Linked DNA regions of Homo sapiens. The protein of the gene in region 1 purifies or fractionates together with the protein of each later gene. This does not show direct contact. Each region holds a gene or a part of one and is shown in the gene's direction. Other genes may lie near its edges.

Region 1 (3,500 bases):
TACCTCAGGTGGTCTGCCCACCTTGGCCTTCCAAAGTGTGTGAGCCACACTTTGGAATTACAGGTGTGAGCCACCTGAACAACTCTTTTAAATAGTTATTTATTCGTTCATTCATTCATTCATTCATTCTTGGTAAAGGCAAAGAGCAAAGATGACATGGCATTTGGTCAGGAGGCACTGACCCCTGCTGAAGGAGGATGTCTTAGGGTCTGCTGACAGTCACGGGCTAGGAGTGTGAGCAGTAGCTCTTTGCAGTAGGTGACCTTGAAGGACCTGGCCTCAGGTAGACATATAGATTTTTGCAGTGTTCCTCACTGAAACACTGCAGCTGTAAAGAGGTAGATTTAATCAAGCCAAATACTACTATACAAATAATGTTCCCTTTTTCATCCCTTCCTTTTAATGTCTCCAGATTTTTCTTTAAAAGTTAGGTTTTAACTCTGTTACTTATGAGTCCTCTACATTACAGTTAGTTGTTTGTGTGGCAGTTTCCCATTCTAGCCCAAGTTTCTTGAGAAAGGCCGTATTTTATTTTTCTTTACATATCTATCCCATAGCCCAGCTTCTGTGTGTGGCAGATGCTTCATAAACGTTTTTAAGGAATGACTGTTATGTTCCATTTGGATATATCCTGTGCTTGACGTAAAGTTCAGTGTCTTCCTAAAGTTTGCTACTGATTTCTAAATGTAGGATTTTATTTGGTCATTTTGTTTTCCAGAGTCCCTGTGAAGCAGGAAGAGTGAGGGCAGGTTCACTGCAGCTCAGCAGCATGTCTGCAGGGAATTCATCTTTGAGAAGGACAAAGCGAAAAGCACCTTCCCCACCCTCCAAAATACCCCCGCATCAAAGTGATGAAAATAGTCGTGTGACTGGTAATGTGGTTGTTTCATTAACATTACATTTGTATTGTGTTTTGTTTAATATGGACAGTAGGAAAGATATGGGTATGTAAGTTATGCTTTTTAAATAATACTTAGGCTTTTTAAATACATCTTGATTAGTCTCACTTTGCTGCCGTTTAAAAATCTGAAACATCACCAAATAAAGTGTCAAAATTATACAGCTCCATTATCCTAAGATGAGCATGTCATAATCTGTGAATTTATTCAGAAAGATGCTGCCATTTCAGGATTAGCTGTATGTAGAAAAGGGAGTCTAAGTGGATTTTAGTGTTTTACAGCTAGATAGTAAAATGGCTTCTAGCAAGGCTTACTGCTTTCTGAACTATATAACTAAGTTAAACTGTTAAGGAATTGTTTTATTTGTGAATATGACTTTATAAGTTGTGTTGCTTCTTTCCTTTAGCCTTACAGCCAGTAGATGGAGTTCCTCCAGACAGTGCTTCAGAAGCAAACTCTCCTGAGGAGCTATCCAGCCCAGGTATGACACCCTTATTCTACATGGTGTAATTACTGAAAAAGGACGTCCATGATAATTGAGAAATGAGTCCATTTGCGATGCTTTGTACATGAAAGAGATACAGATTCTTTGGCCTCATTTCCCAAATTTTTATTATGAAATAAATTCTTGCCCCCACCCCTCTGCCCCTCAACCCAATTAGAGTATGAAGCTGGCAGAGATCAAAATTTCAGTTCTGGAATTGTCCTTGAGTACTTTTTCTATGTGGTCTCCTGCTTTCCTTTATGCAGTATCAGGTTAACATTTATTAACCTCCTTCCCAAGTGTAATGACACACCGTAATTAGGAATGTACCTTGGTGTGTGCAGAAGAAAACTTACAGGAAAGTGTAAGCACAATTTCTTGATGCAACTGTTCTAGGTATGAACTCAACATACAAGTTACCCTACTCTAATGGTAAAAATCTGTTACCATGAAAATGTTTTCTGTTGCAGTATATGGCTCTCCTCTAGGATTCTTTCCAAACAAAATTCCATTACAAGTTACATAATTTATAGTAATACTTTTCCAGTGTTTTTAATAATAGCTACTTAGTAGCTTTTCTAAGAAGTATGATAAAAATGTTTTAATCTTTAGAGTTACTATTAGACATCAATGAATGTGATAGACTAGTAATATCATACCAAAAATAGAATATGATTATGCTAGGACTTTATCATGGGGATAATTCTGTAAGTATAAAAAATGCTTAATATGACTCGCCTGATTTTTATAATTTATATTCCAAATACAGGAAACATTTAGGAGGAACACTCTTGAATCTTTCATCTTTAAGTGGTATTTAAGAATTTGGAATTTTAGCATATATATGTAAGAATTCTTCACTCCTCTGTGATTTTAAATCTTACTCTCAGATAACTAGTAATGATTTTTCTCAGCTTTTACTCAGAATAATATAAATGGCACCATTTTTTTCCACAAAGGAAATGTATTGAATAATAACAATTACAACTGTTGAGTGAAATTAGAAGTCACTGAAATATTATAAAAAGGAGTGCATGCTATTCAAACTTTGCTTCATATCTGTTTTTCTTCATTTGTTTTTTTCCTTTTACCTCTTCTTATTTAATGCATGGATAATTGTGAGCTAACAAATCTGATTTCTTCCAAAATGCTTCTTGGTCTCTGCTTGCCTTAACTCTGTTGTCTAAGTGCCATTTCTACAGATTCTACTTCTTTGGCAGAAACCTTTCACCCTGGGCTTTCCAGTCAGGAGCAGTGCACTGCGCCCAAACTGATGGAGGAAACCTCTGTCTTTGAGTGCCCTGGGACACCTGAGGCAGCCATAACATCATTGACATGTAGGTGGTCAGGCCTTTCCTGGCTGGTGCTTTGTGTCAGGCAGGTTAAGATATCATCGACTGTAAATTTGATGAGCTATTGAAACCTTGTGTAAACATATTTTATAAAGAAAGAGAAGTTTCCCCTTTTTCACTTGAAATTTTATCTGGGTGTAGAGTTTGTTGTTTTTCCCAACCATACAGATGAATACAACAGAGTGGATTAGTTAAATAAAATCAGTGGTTCCGAAGAATTTTAGCTTCTCTTCTATTTGGCTTATATATACTGAGGGGTCACTTTGAAAACACAATTGAGGCTGGGCATGGTGGCTCACACTTAAAATACCAGCTACTCATGAGGCTGAGGTGGAAGATTGCTTGAGCCCTGAATTTTGAGACAGCAGTGAGCTATGATCATGCCACTGAACTCCAGCCTGGGTGACAAAGCAAGACCTTATAATAAAAATTAAAAAACACATTTGTATCTAAACCATCATGGCCTTTCATTTTTTTTCAATACAGAGTTTTCAAATTATTATTATTATTATTTTTTTTTTTTTTTTTTTGAGGAGTCTCACTGTTGCCCAGGCTGGAGTGCAGTGGCGTGATCTCGGCTCACTGCAAGCTCCACCTCCTGGGTTCACGCCATTCTCCCGCCTCAGCTTGCTGAGTAGCTGGGACTACAGGCGCCCGCCACCACACCTGGCTAATTTTTTTGTATTTTTAGTAGAGACGGGGTTTCACTATGTTGGCCAGGATGGTCTCGATCTCCTGACCTTGTGATCCGCCCTCCTCAGCCTC
Region 2 (4,300 bases), on another chromosome or scaffold:
AACAACCGGTTTCTCTCTTCACTGTTACGTAATTGATTTCTTGGGGCTTCGCAACAGTGTTTTACAGGCAACAGGACATAAGGGCAGGGTCTGTTATGGCAAAAGTAGGAGCAAAAAGAACATAGACCAGCCTGTCCAACATGGTGAAACCCGTCTCTACTAAAAATACAAAAATTAGCTGGGCATGGTGGCAGACGCCTGTAATCCCAGCTACTCTGGAGGCTGAGGCAGGAGAATCGCTTGAACCCAGGAGGCAGAGGTTGCAGTGAGCCGAGATCACACCGCTACACTCCAGCCTGGGCAACAAGAGCAAAACTCCGTCTCAAACAAAAACAAAAACAAAAAAAAAACATATACTATATCTATAATGGGCTTTAATCTAGCTTCGTATTTGAGAGGAAAAATGATACATTTCCAACGTCCAGTATACTTTCTTTGTAGCTCCTCTCTGGGCCAAGAAAAGATGTATAGCTTTACTTTGAAATATCTGCCTGCTTTGCTTCTGATAATTACTCAGACTGTGTCTCCTTCCCAAGATGAGCAGCCTCGATATAAGTATGTAAGACTATATGCCACTAGATGATGTCACATAGCCTTTATTACAATAGCAAAATTCTATGCCAGGTACTGTTCTAAGTGCTTTGCATACATTAACTCATGTAGTCCCCATATTATACCCATTTTACAGATGGGGAAACCGAAGCACAAAGCGGTTACTTGGCTTGCCTAAGGCCATAGGAGGACTGTGTTGGAGCTGGGGGTCCAATCCAGTAAATCTGCCTTCAAGGTCTGCGTTAGTTCCCCAGTCCAACTTGTGGGTGCTGGAGACTGGAAATATCTTGCCCGCCCCCCACCCTGGCCCCCCTCGCCCTTCCTACCAGACCTGGCTCAGGGCAACTGCTAAGGCCCCGCCCCTCTCCTCATTCCAAGTCAATCACTGGCGTGCGTCCAGGAAACCCAGTTTACGACGACGTCTCTGGTGCGTCACAGAGCGCGGGGGAGGGGCGGGATCACATTAAAAAAAAAAAAAAGCTTCGGACACCCCAACAACGAAGGGGGGACACCACGTCCCTAACTACAACGCCACTAGAAGGGTTGCGCATGCGCGCCAGCCTCCTGCGCAGCCGCAGAAACCACTCAGCGCGCGAGTCTCTGAAAGGCCTAACGTCCATTTTCAATCCTGCGGGTCTTGCGAAGGAAAACCTGAGGTAAGAGGCCCCGCCCCACAGCCATCTCCTCAGCAAATTCCCGCCCTCGGCCCCGCCCCACAGCTATCTCCTCAGCAAATTCCCGCCCTCGGCCCCGCCCCACAGCCATCTCCTTAGCAAATTCCCGCCCTCACCCAAGGACTGGGAGAGCACCCGCGGATTGGCCGATCAACGGTGACGCCTGTCAGTGGCCAGACTCCGATTGGTCAGCGGGTAGTCCCGCCCCCCCCCCCCCCCCCCCCCCCCCCAACCGCGAGTGTGGGAATTCGGCGTCGCGGGAGCTCTCTGATCCACTCAGGGGTCAGGGCATCACTGGTCTCGCGTGCGCGTGACCAGGCCCGGTTTCCGGTGCCAGGACCTTTCCGAAGCGTCGAGTGGCCTAACGGTCACAGCTGTCGCCCATCGGAGAGGCAGGACTACTGCGAGCAGTTTTACCGCGACCTCCGGAGGCCGGCGTGACAGGCTCTGTCACTAAAATAGGTCTGTCCAGTCGTACTTTTTCCTCACCTTGAACTTTCCGTCACGGGAATACACGATTTGGCTTAGGGGCCGGGGCTCTCCTGAGGAGAGAGGGTTTGCTTTGCGGGGAAGAGCGAGTCTTGACTTCGCAGCCTCCAATTTCAGCCGCGGTGTGGAGGGGGGTGCTTTGGGTGGTCCCCACAGCCTTTCCGGAGTGCCCGCGCGTGTAAGCTTTTGAGATTTGACAATTTGTGAAGTGCTTGGTGCTGACTTTCGGGGACGACAGGATCCTTTTACAGTCATTCTCCTGTCAGGGGAGGCAGGTGGGGAGCGAGGAAGGATCCAGATTTCGTTAACAGAGCTTTGAGTTTAAAGAATTGACAAACTCCCGAGTTGATTTCCTGTCAGACCTTTTGCGGTTGAGACATAGAGTCTGAGGCTTTGATGGTAACCGCGTTTGATTTAGAGACAGACTGTGCAGCTTCGCTGTTTTATTGTAAATACGTAAATGAGGAGGAAGAGAAAAACGTAGGGTGTTGGGAGCAGAGGCGGGAGGCGGGAGATCCTGCGAAATCGGAGTCCCTTTGGAGTGGGGGAGGCCGTCGAGGCGTGCGAGGGCCCGGCCCCCTTGCCGCGTGGTCGTTAACAGGAAAGGCCCTGATTTGGTTGGTGGCGGATCGCGTCCCTCCCTCCTCTCCCCGGCTCTCCCCGAGTGCGGCAAACTGGCTTCAGGTTGACTAAAAGATAGCGATTTTCCAAGCAGCTTTGCCGCGCGGTGTTTTCTAAAGCGGGGCGTGGGCTGGGTGCCCTTTTGGGCCTCACTTGTCCGGCCTGCGGCAAGTGCTGGGCGATGGGATGCGGTTCTGGCGGCAAAGGAAGGGCTGCCTTTGAGAGTCCCGCAGGAAGGTTTAGAAAGTGATTGTTCTTAAAACAAACAGAGCGTTTTGCTGTGTGTTCCTCAAAGTGGTCCCGGTGGGAGTGGCGCCTCATTGTGAGCTGTGCCTTATCTGATGAATTAATGGCAGGTGAAAGCCTTGCGCCTCCGGAGCGAATATTTACGACTTTTGAAAATGTCTTTAATGTCTAAAAAAAGTCTTTTAGAAAATCAGACGGCCTCTTGTTCTTATGTTATCAAGAGTTTAGATTTCTGTGGTAAATATAAGTGAGTTTCATTTTAAGTAAACTCATTTTACGAGATTTGAGATTTGAAAGTGAAATTAATTAATTTTGCACAATCTAGCCTTGGGCTCTGAGAAAATGTTGTAAAGCTGTAATTAATCTTGTGGGACGAAGTGAAAAGGAACTAAAGTGTATGGTGTAATGAATAGTTTAAATTTCTGTGGTAAATACAAGTGAGTTTCATTTTAAGTAAACTCATTTTTATGGGATTTGAGATTTAAAAGTGAAATTAATTAATTTCGCACAATCTAGTCATGGTTGGGCTCAGAAAATGTTGTAAAGTTGTGATTTATCTTATGGAAAGAAGTGAAAAGGAATTAAGGTATATGGTGTAATTAAGAGTTTAAATTTCTGTGGTAAATGCAAGTGAGTTTCATTTTAAGTAAACTCATTTTTACGGGATTTGAGATTTAAAAGTGAAATTAATTCATTTTGCACAGTGTAGTCATGGTTGGGCTCTGAGAAAATGTTGTAAAGCTGAAATTATTTATCTTGTGGGAAGAAGTGAGAAGAAACTAAAATGTGTGGTATTATCAAGAGTTTAGATTTCCGGGGTAAATATAAATGAGTTTCCTTTAAACTCATTTTTGTGGAATTTGAGGTTTAAAAGTGAAATTAATTTTGTAGAATCTAGTCATGGTTGGGCTCTGAGAAAATGTTGTAAAGCTGTAATTTATCTTGTGGGAAAAAGTGAAAAGGAACTTAAATTTATGGTGTTATCAAGAATTGGCCAGGCGCGGTGGCTCACACCTGTAATCCCAGCACTTTGGGAGGCCGAGGTGGGCAGATCACTTGAGGTCAGAAGTTCGGGACCAGCCTGGCCAACATGGTGAAACCCAGTCTTTACTAAAAGTACAAAAATTAACTGGGCATGGTGGTGCAAGCCTGTTACGCTAACTACTCGGGAGGCTGAGGGAGGAGAATTGCTTTAACCCGGGAGGCAGAGGTTGCAGTAAGCCGAGATCATGCCACTGCACTCCAGCCTGGGTGACAGAGTAAGACTCTGTCTCAAAAAAAAAAAAAAAAAAAAAAGAAATTTAGATTTCTGTGGTAAATATAAATGAGTTTCATTTTAAGTAAACTCATTTTGTGGGATTTGAGATTTAAAAATGAAATTAATTTTGCACATTCTAGTCATGGTTGGGCTCTAAGGCAATGTTGTAAAGCTGTAATTGTTTGCCTTATGGGAAGAAGTGAAAAGGAATTAAAATTTATGGTGTGTCTACTATGAACCAGGCATGATGCTGAGAGTTTAACTGTGTAATTTTTGGCCTAAATAGCCCTGTGAAGTAGATATTATTCCAACTTTACAGGTTAGAAAATTTGAGGCACAGAGAGGTGAAATATTTGCCTAAAGTGAAACGGCAAATTTGGCAATTTGGACTTGGATTCAAGTGTTTATAACTAAAGCCCAGCTCCTTGCATCATACCCTGGTACCTAAAAGACATAAAAA

The links. The genes of interacting proteins can lie anywhere in the genome.
Region 2: the proteins of COBLL1 (region 1) and SCML1 purify together in Homo sapiens (affinity purification with mass spectrometry, with the first as the bait; one large-scale study listed by BioGRID). This does not show direct contact.

The regions. Positions count from the first base shown.
Region 1 is NC_000002.12:164,702,324-164,705,823, reverse strand, and holds part of COBLL1 (cordon-bleu protein-like 1), read left to right. Parts: intron 1-718; coding exon 719-872; intron 873-1,305; coding exon 1,306-1,380; intron 1,381-2,603; coding exon of another isoform or gene 2,604-2,720; intron 2,721-3,500.
Region 2 is NC_000023.11:17,735,993-17,740,292, forward strand, and holds the start of SCML1 (sex comb on midleg-like protein 1), read left to right. Parts: upstream 1-1,500; 5' UTR 1,501-1,688; exon of another isoform or gene 1,689-4,300. UniProt on the Homo sapiens protein: Putative Polycomb group (PcG) protein. PcG proteins act by forming multiprotein complexes, which are required to maintain the transcriptionally repressive state of homeotic genes throughout development.